2 linked regions of the Homo sapiens genome follow. The protein of the gene in region 1 interacts with the protein of each later gene in a biochemical or structural test. Each region holds a gene or a part of one and is shown on either strand. Other genes may lie near its edges.

Region 1 (2,970 bases):
TTAAGTTGAAGGATTTATACGTTTTCTAATGTACTTTTCCATTTTGATTTTCCTACATAAATGGGCACTGTCAAACAATAAGAAATAGGAAATAAATAGGAAACTGGCCATACTCAAACAACAAAAATGCTATTAAAAATCTGAGATTTAGGATTGTTGAAAGGTTTCTCTTTTAAATAAACCCAAATCAATTTTCAGTTCCATCCTTCTACTCAAAGGTGTATTTGAAGAACTGATATATTATCTTATAATAATAAAAGCAGGAATATCAGTGATCTGGCAATTTTATTGGTGTTTTTAAGGTATAGTTATAATAAGAAAAATTTTAATTTATAAATGACATTGATAAAATAGCAGGTGAATAATTTTTCAATAATATATGTGCTAGGAAGGGGTTAGTTTCCATAGAATATAAGCTTGATATATAATTGAAATGACCTTTGCTCCCATCCGACTTCCTTGGACTTCCACAATATGGCTCCAACATGACTTTCTAGTCCTATTTTCTGGTAGGCACCTAACAACTATTGTTCTCCAGGAAATCTGACTGAAAGAATTATAAATATAATTTAAATATATGTATATTATATATATATAATATAATATAAACAAATAAAACTAATTTGTCGAAAGCAATTTGGAAATTGGCCTAAAGCTACTGAGAGAACGGTGGCAAATATGACTTTGATTGAAATGCCAAGTTCATCAAAACTGTAATTTCCCAATCACTAATTTTGTTGTTGTGAAGTTTATTTTAGTATTGGTATAAGAGTGTATCATGAGGTAGCTTTGCAACCCTTAGTCTTTGGCAAATATTTTATTTTTACCTGTTTTTTTAAAAAAATTTAAACTTAAAACACCTTTTATGTTTCCAATTTATTTGCAGCCAATAATCCCATGATGCATTGTTCATTATGTAAAAATTGAAAACAATCTAAATATTCAACAGTAAAGGATTTTCAGAGCTAAATACCCTTCATCTTTATGCAGGGAGATGAAGAAGTCAAGAAAACTAATGGAGACTACTCTTTAAAGGAGAACAGCTGCAAAGGCAGAGATAGGCAATAGCTATAAGAGGAAGGTCTAGGAAGTATTTTTTATGATAAGTAAATATGTAGTAGAAATAGCCAAAAGGTGGAAGAACAAAACTAAATATAACAATTATTTAAAAATTCATCATGTTAATTATGTAAGGAAATTAAAAAGCTTTGGTGGACTGAGTAGAACCTCTTCTCTCTCTCTTTCTCTCTCTTTTTTACTTCAATTACTTAAAAACATCACCACTAGTCTCTCTTTTTCTCACTTGCTATCTCTCCCCTCCCCTCACCTCCTTTGCAGCAACCCACTGCTATCTTTCTCCTCACTTGGTTCAGTATTCCTGGAATATTTAGCTGCATGACAGGATGAAGATCCACAACTAAATACCATTTAGCATTGATGGTTCAGTACCGTGGACAGCAGCACTCATGTTGGGAATGGGCCTTACTGAAATCGCAGAGTGACTTTGTAAGTTTGGTATATCACAGAATAAATTTGTTGGCGTGGCTACAAATGGATAAGGTGCTGGCCAGAATATTAAAATTCATGGCCGAATTAATTTTTTTTTCTTCCCTTCATGGAGGGGAGGAAAAAAAAAATTAACATTATCACAAAGAAAGGCTGGCGCATAGTAGCACTCAAATACCTTAATTGAATGAACTTTTCACCTTAATGATAAAGAGTGGCTCAATATGTAGGCGTATTTGATGGCTCTTTTAAAGTGATCATTCCAAATCAATAACTGCAAAAGAAATTTGTGTATTTTTTTACTGTGCTGTCCATGGTGTCAATGAATATAAGGTTGTCAAAAGTTGAACTAAAAAATGAGGACTGAGTTGAGATTCAGTCACTAACACAGGATAATGCAAATTAGTTTTAGATGTAAAATTAAAAACATCATTGGCTATTTTTATGACAAAATTTTAAAAGTCCTTTCATGGCTTTGTCCAACAATTTAAATGACCCCATCATCCATCCTCTGACACAAGTAACTTAAGTGAAAGGTTACTTGAAACTTCACCAATGGAGGCCTGAAAATTTAACAATATACTTTTCTGGCAGCATTCTTTCATCTTTGTCACCCTGATACAGTTCCTAAACAGAAAACAAACTAATGCTACTCAAATTTACATGTTTACATAAACTCACATTTCATGTGTCATCTGTTCTGAAGAGTCTTTTTCTAAAATTAGTTCCTACAGTTCTTGAAGTGTGTGACTCTCATTTTGACACACAATCATACAATGGCTCCAACTTTTGCTGCCTGACTCGTATGTCCTCTGAAAGACAAACATTAAGAGCTATGTGAAGTAGTTCACTTACTTTTCTGTTACACTTCATTACACCTAAAAGGGCTGCCACACAAATACTGAACACTTACAAATCATCTTCTTTCTGGAATACAAGAGTGCATCTCTTTGCTTCTTGGCACATGTATCTCTGGAGTATGACAGTACGATCAGTGAACTTGTCCTTTAAATTGATGAGATGTTATTATCACTCCTCTTAGTTTTACCCCAACTGGGAAATGTTCACATAACCATTTAGACGTGTTGCCTTAGATCAGCATTTATCCAACTTTTTCCCTAAGGCATCCACCTCTGCTGGCAAAAGTGCATGAAGTAAAGCAGGATCAAGGAACATTATTCCAAGTTGTAGATGGCAAATACAACATTTCTTTGAACTCTCATGCTTTACTTTAAAATACATTAGAATTAATTTTGCACTCTATTCTATAATTCATTCATTCAACAAATATTAGGGACCTACTGCATGCCAGGCATTATTACAGGGATACAGTAATGAATAAACATATCTGTGTTTGTTTTTAACCTAGTGACATTTTAATACAACTGGCACGAGTAGAAAAACAAAAACTTTACCAAATCAAAGAGCAAAACCGATAATCCAAGATGGAACAATTATTGCTTC
Region 2 (8,022 bases), on another chromosome or scaffold:
CAGCACAGGGCCCAGGCACACAGGAAATATTTTACCAAGTGAATCAGTGAATTGATAGCAGTAAGAAATGGTCAAGAATGGGTTCTGCAGCTGGGCATGGTGGCTCATGCCTGTAATCCCAGCACTTTGGGGAAGCTGAGAAGGGAGGACTGCTTGAGGCTGGGAGTTCAAGACTACCCTGGGCAACATAGTGAGACCGTGCCTCTACAAAAAACATAAAAATTGGCCGGGTGGGGTGGCTCACACCTGTAATCCCAACACTTTGGGGAAGCTGAGAAGGGAGGACTGCTTGAGGCTGGGAGTTCAAGACTACCCTGGGCAACATAGTGAGACCGTGCCTCTACAAAAAACATAAAAATTGGCCGGGTGGGGTGGCTCACGCCTGTAATCCCAGCACTTTGGGAAGCCGAGGTGGGCGGATCAACTGAGGTCCGGAGTCCGAAACCAGCCTGACCAACATGGAGAAACCTTGTCTCTACTAAAGACACAAAATTAGCTGGGCGTTGTGGCACACACCTGGGAGACTGAGGCAGGAGAATCCCTTGAACCTGGGAGGCGGAGGTTGCGGTGAGCCGAGATTGCACCATTGCACTCCAGCCTGGGCAACAAGAGTGAAACTCCATCTCAAAAAAAAAAAAAAAAAAAAAAAAAAATATATATATATATATATATATATATATATATATATATAAATTAGCCCGGTGTGGTGGTGCACACCTGTAGTCCCAGCTACTCAAGAGGTGGAGGTGGAAGGATTGCTCGAATGCAGGAGTTTGAAGTTACAGTGAGCTATGATCACACCACTGCACTCCAGCACTCCAGCCTGGGCAACAGAGCAAGACTGTCTCAAAAAAAAAAAAAAAAAAAAAAAAGGATTCAGTGTCAGTCAGGTACACATGGCCCTTCCTGTCATCCCAGCTCCTAAAATTCTGAGCATCTCTGAAGGGAGGGACTAGGTCTTAATCACCTTTATATCTCCTTTGTCTACTACTGCCAAAGTGGCAGCATCTCTAGCCTCCCTGTGACTTTCCTTGGGTCTTATGGGTAATATGGAATATTACAGCAGCCAGAGGGAACTTTCAAGACAGAAGTCAGAATAGCCCCTCCCCTGCTTAACACCCTGCACCAGCTCCCACTGCCTTAGAACACAACCCAGAGTCTTTCCCATGACCTATGGCTCTGCATGATCAACCCCCTCCTGTCCCATCACTGCACCCCAGCCCCAGTCCTGTTGACCTGTAAACAGCCAAGTTTGTTCCTGCCTCAGGGCCTTTGCACTAGCTGCTCTTTCTGCCAGGAACCCTCTTCCCCCAGATGTTTGCGTGACCGGTTCCTTCTTTTCAATCAGGTCTTAGTTCAAATGCCCCATCCTCATGGTGGTCTTCTCTATCACTCCACCTAAGCAGACCCAATCCCCAGTCCCTCCCCACCCCCAATATTCTGCTGTATCACCCTGGTTTGTCTTCATAGCACATATTGCTGGCTGACATTATCTTATTTATTTGATTTCTAGTTTTCAGACCGTCAACTAGAAGATCAGATCCAAGGGCTGGGATATGCCTGCTGTGTTCACTGCTTTAACCACAGTGCCTAGCACATAGTAAAGGCTCAGGAAAGATCGGCCAGGCACGGTGGCTCATGCCTGTAATCCCAGCACTTTGGGAGGCCGAGGCGGGTGGATCACCTGAGGTCAGGAGTTTGAGACCAGCCTGGACGACATGGCAAAACCCCCTCTCTACTAAAAAAATACAAAAATTAGCCGGGTGTGGTGGCACGTGCCTGTAATCCCAGCTATTTGGAGGCTGAGGCAGGAGAATCGCTTGAACCTGGGAGGCAGAGGTTGCAGTGAGCCCAGATGGCACCACTGCACTCTAGCCTGGGTGACAGAACAAGACTGTCTCAAACAAACAAACAAAAAAGATTTACAGAAGGAATGAGTCATAGAGGGCCCTCAACTCCTTGGCCTTCAAACCTAAATGGAACCAAGGGAGGGCAGACACTGGGACCAGCTATCTAGTGTTGCTTGCTTCCTGCTCCCACAAGCCTGAATGGCTAGCCACTAGCCTGGCCAATTGCATCTCCCATTACTCTTCCATAACCCCCTTCTGATCTAGATTGTTCTCACTGTCCCATGAACATACCATGCTCACTCCCATGTCTTTGTCTCAGCAGTGGCCCCCACCTGGGATACCCTTCCAACAACCAGCTCAAGTCCCACTTTGTCCTGGTGTCATCGTTCTCTCCTCACCTCTCTTCTGTGAGCTCCTCCAGCCCTTACATTCTAAAGTCCAGATTTGAGGCTTCATTATGTATTATCTATGTTGGGGTGTTTACTTTAAATACTGAGTGCTCACCATGTGCCCAGTGCTTTGTAAAGGCCATCTAATTTAACTCAGCTGTGTACTAAGATGGAGCAGGGGAGTATTACCCCATTTACAGATGAGGACACTGAGACTCCAAGAAATGAAGTGACTTTCCAATGTTTTACAGAAGGTACGTGGTGGACCTGGGGCTCAAACCCAGGCCTTCCAGACTCCAGAGTCCTGATTCCCTTGCTCCAATGGGCTCTCAGCTGCTGGGTGAGGCTGTTCCTGAGAGGTCTCCTCTTGCACTTCCCAAAACAACAGAGTAGACCCAGGCCCCAGGCCCAGCCATCAGGAGACTGAGGTTTGAACCCCAGCTCCGCCTCTCTCTGGGTCAGATGCTTGCTCTGTGAGCTGGGACTACTCTACTCGGGCACACGGTCTGGGACTGACCAGATCTCTTGGGGTACGTTTGCAGTCAGACCTGGGCGTGAGACCCGCTCCCGCCTGGCCCTGCCTTGGGCGCGCAGGGCGGCCTCGGCACTTGTCTGGCAACTTCTCCGCGGCCTCGGATCTTGCCCCAGCATTACTGCTGGAGTTGTTCCCCCATTTTACAGACAGGAAAACTGAGGCAGGCAGAAAGGAAGGCCCCGCCCGGCCGGCCCTCACCCTTGTTCTTCTGTGTCCGAGCGATCTCCTTCTCGATCTCCGAGATCTTCTCTAAGATCCCCATGGTAGCAGCAGAGGTGGGCGCACAGACAGCGGTGGCGGCGGCACCGGCAATTCCGGTCTGACGGCGGCGACAGAGTAGCGTGCGCCCGGAAGCCAAAGAGAACAGCGTTCTCGTGGGCGCCTGGTGCTCCAGGATTCAGAGTCCGGGCGAGCCAAGTGCCAGACACTATCGGTTCCGCCCGCTGGGCCGGCCAGGCTGCGGACCTCTGGAAAGAGCCGGGGCGGGGCCGGGCCATGCTGTACTGGCCCACGGCTGCGGCTGGCAGGAGCAAGCAAGGAAGAGAGGGAATCTGCCCGTGTTGAACTCTGAACTGCGGGTCCCTGAGCGCAGCTGACTGGCAGTGTAAGGAAAAGGGGCTGAGCCGAAAGCCTAGTGGCTTTCATTTTATACTATAAATGGAGGTGTCCAATCTTTTGGCTTCTCTGGGCCACATTGGAAGAATTGTCTTGGGCCACACGTAAAATACACCAACACTAACGATAGCTGATGAGCTTAAAAAAAAATCGCCAAAAAAACCCTCAATGTTTTGGCCGGGCGCGGTGGCTCACGCCTGTAATCCCAGCACTTTGGAAGGCCGAGACGGGCGGATCACCTGAGGTTGGGAGTTCGAGACCAGCCTGACCAACATGGAGAAACCCATGTCTACTAAAAATACAAAATTAGCCGGGCGTGGTGGCGCGCGCCTATAATCCCAGCTACTGGGAAGGCTGAGGCAGGAGAATTGCTTGAACCCGGGAGGCGGAGGTTGCGGTGAGTGGAGATTGCGCGCCATTGCACTCCAGCCTGGGCAACAAGAGCGAAACTCCATCTCAAAAAACAAACAAACAAAAAACCTCAGTTTTTTTTTCTTTGTTTTAGTTTTGTTTTTTTGAGACGGAGTCTCACTTTGTCATCCAGGCTGTAGTTCAGTGGTGTGATCTTGGCTCACCGCAACCTCCGACTCCTGGGTTCAAGTGATTCTCCTGCCTCAGCCTCCCAAGTAGTTGGGATTACAGGCGCGTGCCACCACACTCGGCTAATTTTTGTATTTTTAGTAGAGACGAGGTTTCACCATGTTGGCCAGGCTGGTCACGAACTCCTGACCTCAAGTGATCTGCCTGCCTCAGCCTCACAAAGTGCTGGGATTACAGGCGTGAGCCGCTGTGCCCTGCCTAAATTTCATAATGTTTTAAGAAAGTTTACGAATTTGTGTTTGGCCACATTCAAAGTGGTCCTGGGCCACATGTGGCTGCAGACCTCAGGTGGGACAAGCTTGAAGAGGTTCAAAATGGATCCCCAAGATGCTGCCACTGCACTCCAGCATGGGCAACAGAGCGAGAACCTGTCTCAAGAAAAAAAAAGTGGATCCCCATACCACCTTTTTTTTTTTTTTTTTTTTTTTGAGACAGGGTCTCACTTGATCACCCAGGCTGGTGTGCAGTGGCGTGATCACAGCTCACTGCAGCCTCGACCTCCCAGGCTCAGGTGATCCTCCCTCCTCAGTCTGGGAGAAAATCAGCCACCGCGCCTGGCTGATTTTTGTATTATGTTGTAGAGATGGAGTTTCACCATTGTTGCCCAGTCTGGTCTTGAACTTCTGAGCTCAAGGAATCTGCCAGCCTTGGCCTCCCAGAGTTCTGAGATTACAGGCATGAGCCACTGCACCTGCCCCCCATACCACCTTAACGCAGTACTCCAACTCAGGATCACCTACCATCAGATGCCTCCTGATACGAAGCAGTGTAAAGTAGACAGCATCTCGTGACATTTTTTCTTAGACAGGCTCTCCCTCTATTGCCTAGGCTAGAGTGCAGTGGCGTGACTACAGCTCACTGCAACCTCAACCTTCCAGGCTCAAGTGATCCTCCCACCTCAGCCTCCTGAGTAATTGTGACTATAGGCCCGAACCATCATGCCTGGCTAATTAAAAAAAATTTTTTTTTGTAGAGATGGGGTTTCACTATGTTGCCCAGGCTGCTCCTGAACTCCTGGTCTCAAGCAGTCCTCCCACCTCGGCCTCCCAAGGTGCTAGGATTACAGGCATGAGCCACCTCATCTGGCTGACAGCATCTCTTATGTAGAATTCTTGCCAAAAATACTGTAACTGAGTTTAGGCATGAGGAAACATCAGATAAATGTAGAAAGTGGAACATTTTATAAGGCAATTGGCCTTGGTTCATCAAAATTGTCAATGACAGTGGCCAGGGGGTAAGTAGGGAGATTGTTCTAAATGAAAAAATGTTACGTGTGTGGAACTTGTCCAGATTCTGGTTGAAATTTTTATTTTATTTAAATTTATATATTTTTTTCTTTTTTTTTTTTTTTGAGACGGAGTCTCTCTCTGTTGCCCAGGCTGGAGTGCAGTGGCGCGATCTTGGCTCACTGCAAGCTCCATCTCCCGGGTTCACGCCATTCTCCTGCCTCAGCCTCCCGAGTAGCTGGGACTACAGGCGCCCGCCACCACACCCGGCTAATTTTTTGTATTTTTAGTAGAGACGGGGTTTCACCGTGCTAGCCAGGATGGTGTCGATCTCCTGACCTCGTGATCCGTCCGCCTTGGCCTCCCAAAGTGCTGGGATTACAGGCGTGAGCCACCGCGCCTGGCTATCTTTTTTTCTTTTTTTGAGACGCAGTCTCACTCCGTCGCCCAGGCTGGAGTGCAGTGGCACAATCTCGGCTCACTGCAAACCTCCGCCTCCCGGGTTCGAGCGATTCTCCTGCCTCAGCCTCCTGAGTTGCTGGGACTACAGGCGCCTGCCACCATGCCCGGCTAATTTTTTGTATTTTTAGTAGAGATGGGGTTTCACCATGTTAGCCAGGATGGTCTCAATCTCCTGACCTCGTGATCCGCCCGCCTCGGCCTCCCAAAGTGCTGGGATTACAGGCTATTTTTCTTTTTTTAGAGATGGGGTGTCTCTCTATCACCCAGGCTGGAGTGTAGTGTTATGATCATGGCTGACTGCAGCCTTGAACTCCTGGGCTCAAGTGATCCTCCAGCCTCAACCTCCCAAGTAGCTAGGACTACAGGCACATGCTACCATGGCCAGTTAATTCTGGTTGAAAAATTTAAAAGCACCTATAAAAAGACATTCTGGGCCAGGCGCAGAGGCTCACACCTGTAATCCTATCATTTTGGGAGGCCCAGGTGGGTGGATCACCTGAGGTCAGGAGTTCAAGACCAGCCTGGCCAATATGGCGAAACCCCATCTCTATTAAAAGTACAAAATTAGAGGCCGGGTGCAGTGGCTCACGCCTGTAATCCCAGCACTTTGGGAGGCCAAGGCGGGTGGATCACGAGGTCAGGAGATCGAGACCATCCTGGCTAACACGGTGAAACCCCATCTCTACCAAAAATACAAAAAATTAGCTGGGCGTGGTGGCGCACGCCTGTAGTCCCAGCTACTTGGGGGGCTGAGGCAGGAGAATCGCTTGAACCCGGGAGGCAGAGGTTGCAATGAGCCAAGATTGTGCCACTGCATTCCAGCCTGTGCAATAAGAGAGAAACTCCATCTCAAAAAAAAAAAAAAAAAAAGACATTCCAAGCTGGGTGTGGTGGTGTGTACCTGTAGTCCTGATTACTGAGAAGGCTGAGGCAAGAGGATCACGTGAGCCCAGAAGGTAAAGGCTGCAGTGAGCCATAATCACACCACTGCACACCAGCCTGGGCCATAGAGTGAGATGCTGTCTCTAAAATAAATTAAATAAATAAACAAAAATTTTGAATAAATAGAAAACATTCTGAGGACAATTTGGAAGAAATCTAACTACGAATTGGATATTGAATATTCTGGAGCTTACCAATTTTCTTGGTGTGATGATGTAAGCGAATGTCTTTATTCTTAGCAGATGTACATGCAGTATTTAGGGGTTGTCTTAGTCGGCTCAGGCTGCCATAGAATACCATGGACTTGGGCCAGGCGCGGTGGCTCACGCCTTTAATCCCAGCACTTTGGGAGGCTGAGGCGGGCAGATCACGAGGTCAGGAGATCGACACCATCCTGGCTAACACGGTGAAACCCTGTCTCTACTAAAAAATACAAAAAAAGAAAAAAATAGCCAGGCGTGGTGGCAGGCGCCTGTAGTCCCAGCTACTCAGGAGGTTGAGGCAGGAGAATGGTGTGAACCTGGGAAGCGGAGCTTGCAGTGAGCCGAGATCGAGCCACTGCACTCCAGCCTGTGTGACATACCATGGACTTAGTGGCATAAACAACAGACATTTATTTTCTCACATTCTGGATGCTGGAAGTCTGAGATCAGGATGCCAACATAGTTGCACTCCGGTGAGGGCTCTCTTCCTGTTTTGCAGAGGGCTACTTTGCCACTGTGTCCTCAAATGCCCTTTCCTTAGTGCATGCTCTCAGAGAGACAAGCTCTCTGGTGTCCCTTCTTACAAGGGCACCATGTCCATCATAAGCAGTATCTTACCCCATGAACTCATCCAACTCTAATTACCCCCATAGGCCCCAACTCCAAATACCATCACATCACAAACATTCAGTCCATAGTAGGTGTGACATCTGTACCTTACTCAACTAGTTCAAAGTATGTATATATGGGGCTGGGGACGGTGGCTCACGCCTGTAATCTCAGCACTTTGGGAGGCTGAGGCGGGTGGATCACCTGAGATCAGGAGTTCAAGACCAGCCTGGCCAACATGGAGAAACCCCGTCTCTACTAAAAATACAAAAATTAGCCAGGCATGGTGGCTCATGCCTGTAATCCCAGCTACTCCAGAGGCTGAGACAGGAGAATCGCTTGAAACTGGGAGGCAGGGGTTGCAGTGAGCCGAGATTGCGCCACTGCACTCCAGCCTGGGCAACAGAGAGAGGCTCTGTCTCAAAAAAAAAAAAAACCAAAGTAGGGCTGCTGCGGTGGCTCACATCTGTAATCCCAGCACTTTGGGTGGCTGAGGCGAGCGGATCACTTGAGGTCAGGAGTTCAAGACCAGCCTGGCCAACATGGTGAGACCCCGTCTCTACTAAAAATATGAAAATTAGCCGGTTGTGG

Evidence for each region.
Region 2: the proteins of RWDD1 (region 1) and DRG2 form a complex in vitro, tested with the Homo sapiens proteins (one study listed by BioGRID).

What each region holds. Positions count from the first base shown.
Region 1 is NC_000006.12:116,595,504-116,598,473, reverse strand, and holds the end of RWDD1 (RWD domain-containing protein 1), read right to left. Parts: 3' UTR 799-2,970; downstream 1-798. UniProt on the Homo sapiens protein: Protects DRG2 from proteolytic degradation.
Region 2 is NC_000017.11:18,083,038-18,091,059, reverse strand, and holds the start of DRG2 (developmentally-regulated GTP-binding protein 2), read right to left. Parts: upstream 3,113-8,022; 5' UTR 3,037-3,112; coding exon 2,973-3,036; intron 1-2,972. UniProt on the Homo sapiens protein: Catalyzes the conversion of GTP to GDP through hydrolysis of the gamma-phosphate bond in GTP. When hydroxylated at C-3 of 'Lys-21' by JMJD7, may bind to RNA and play a role in translation.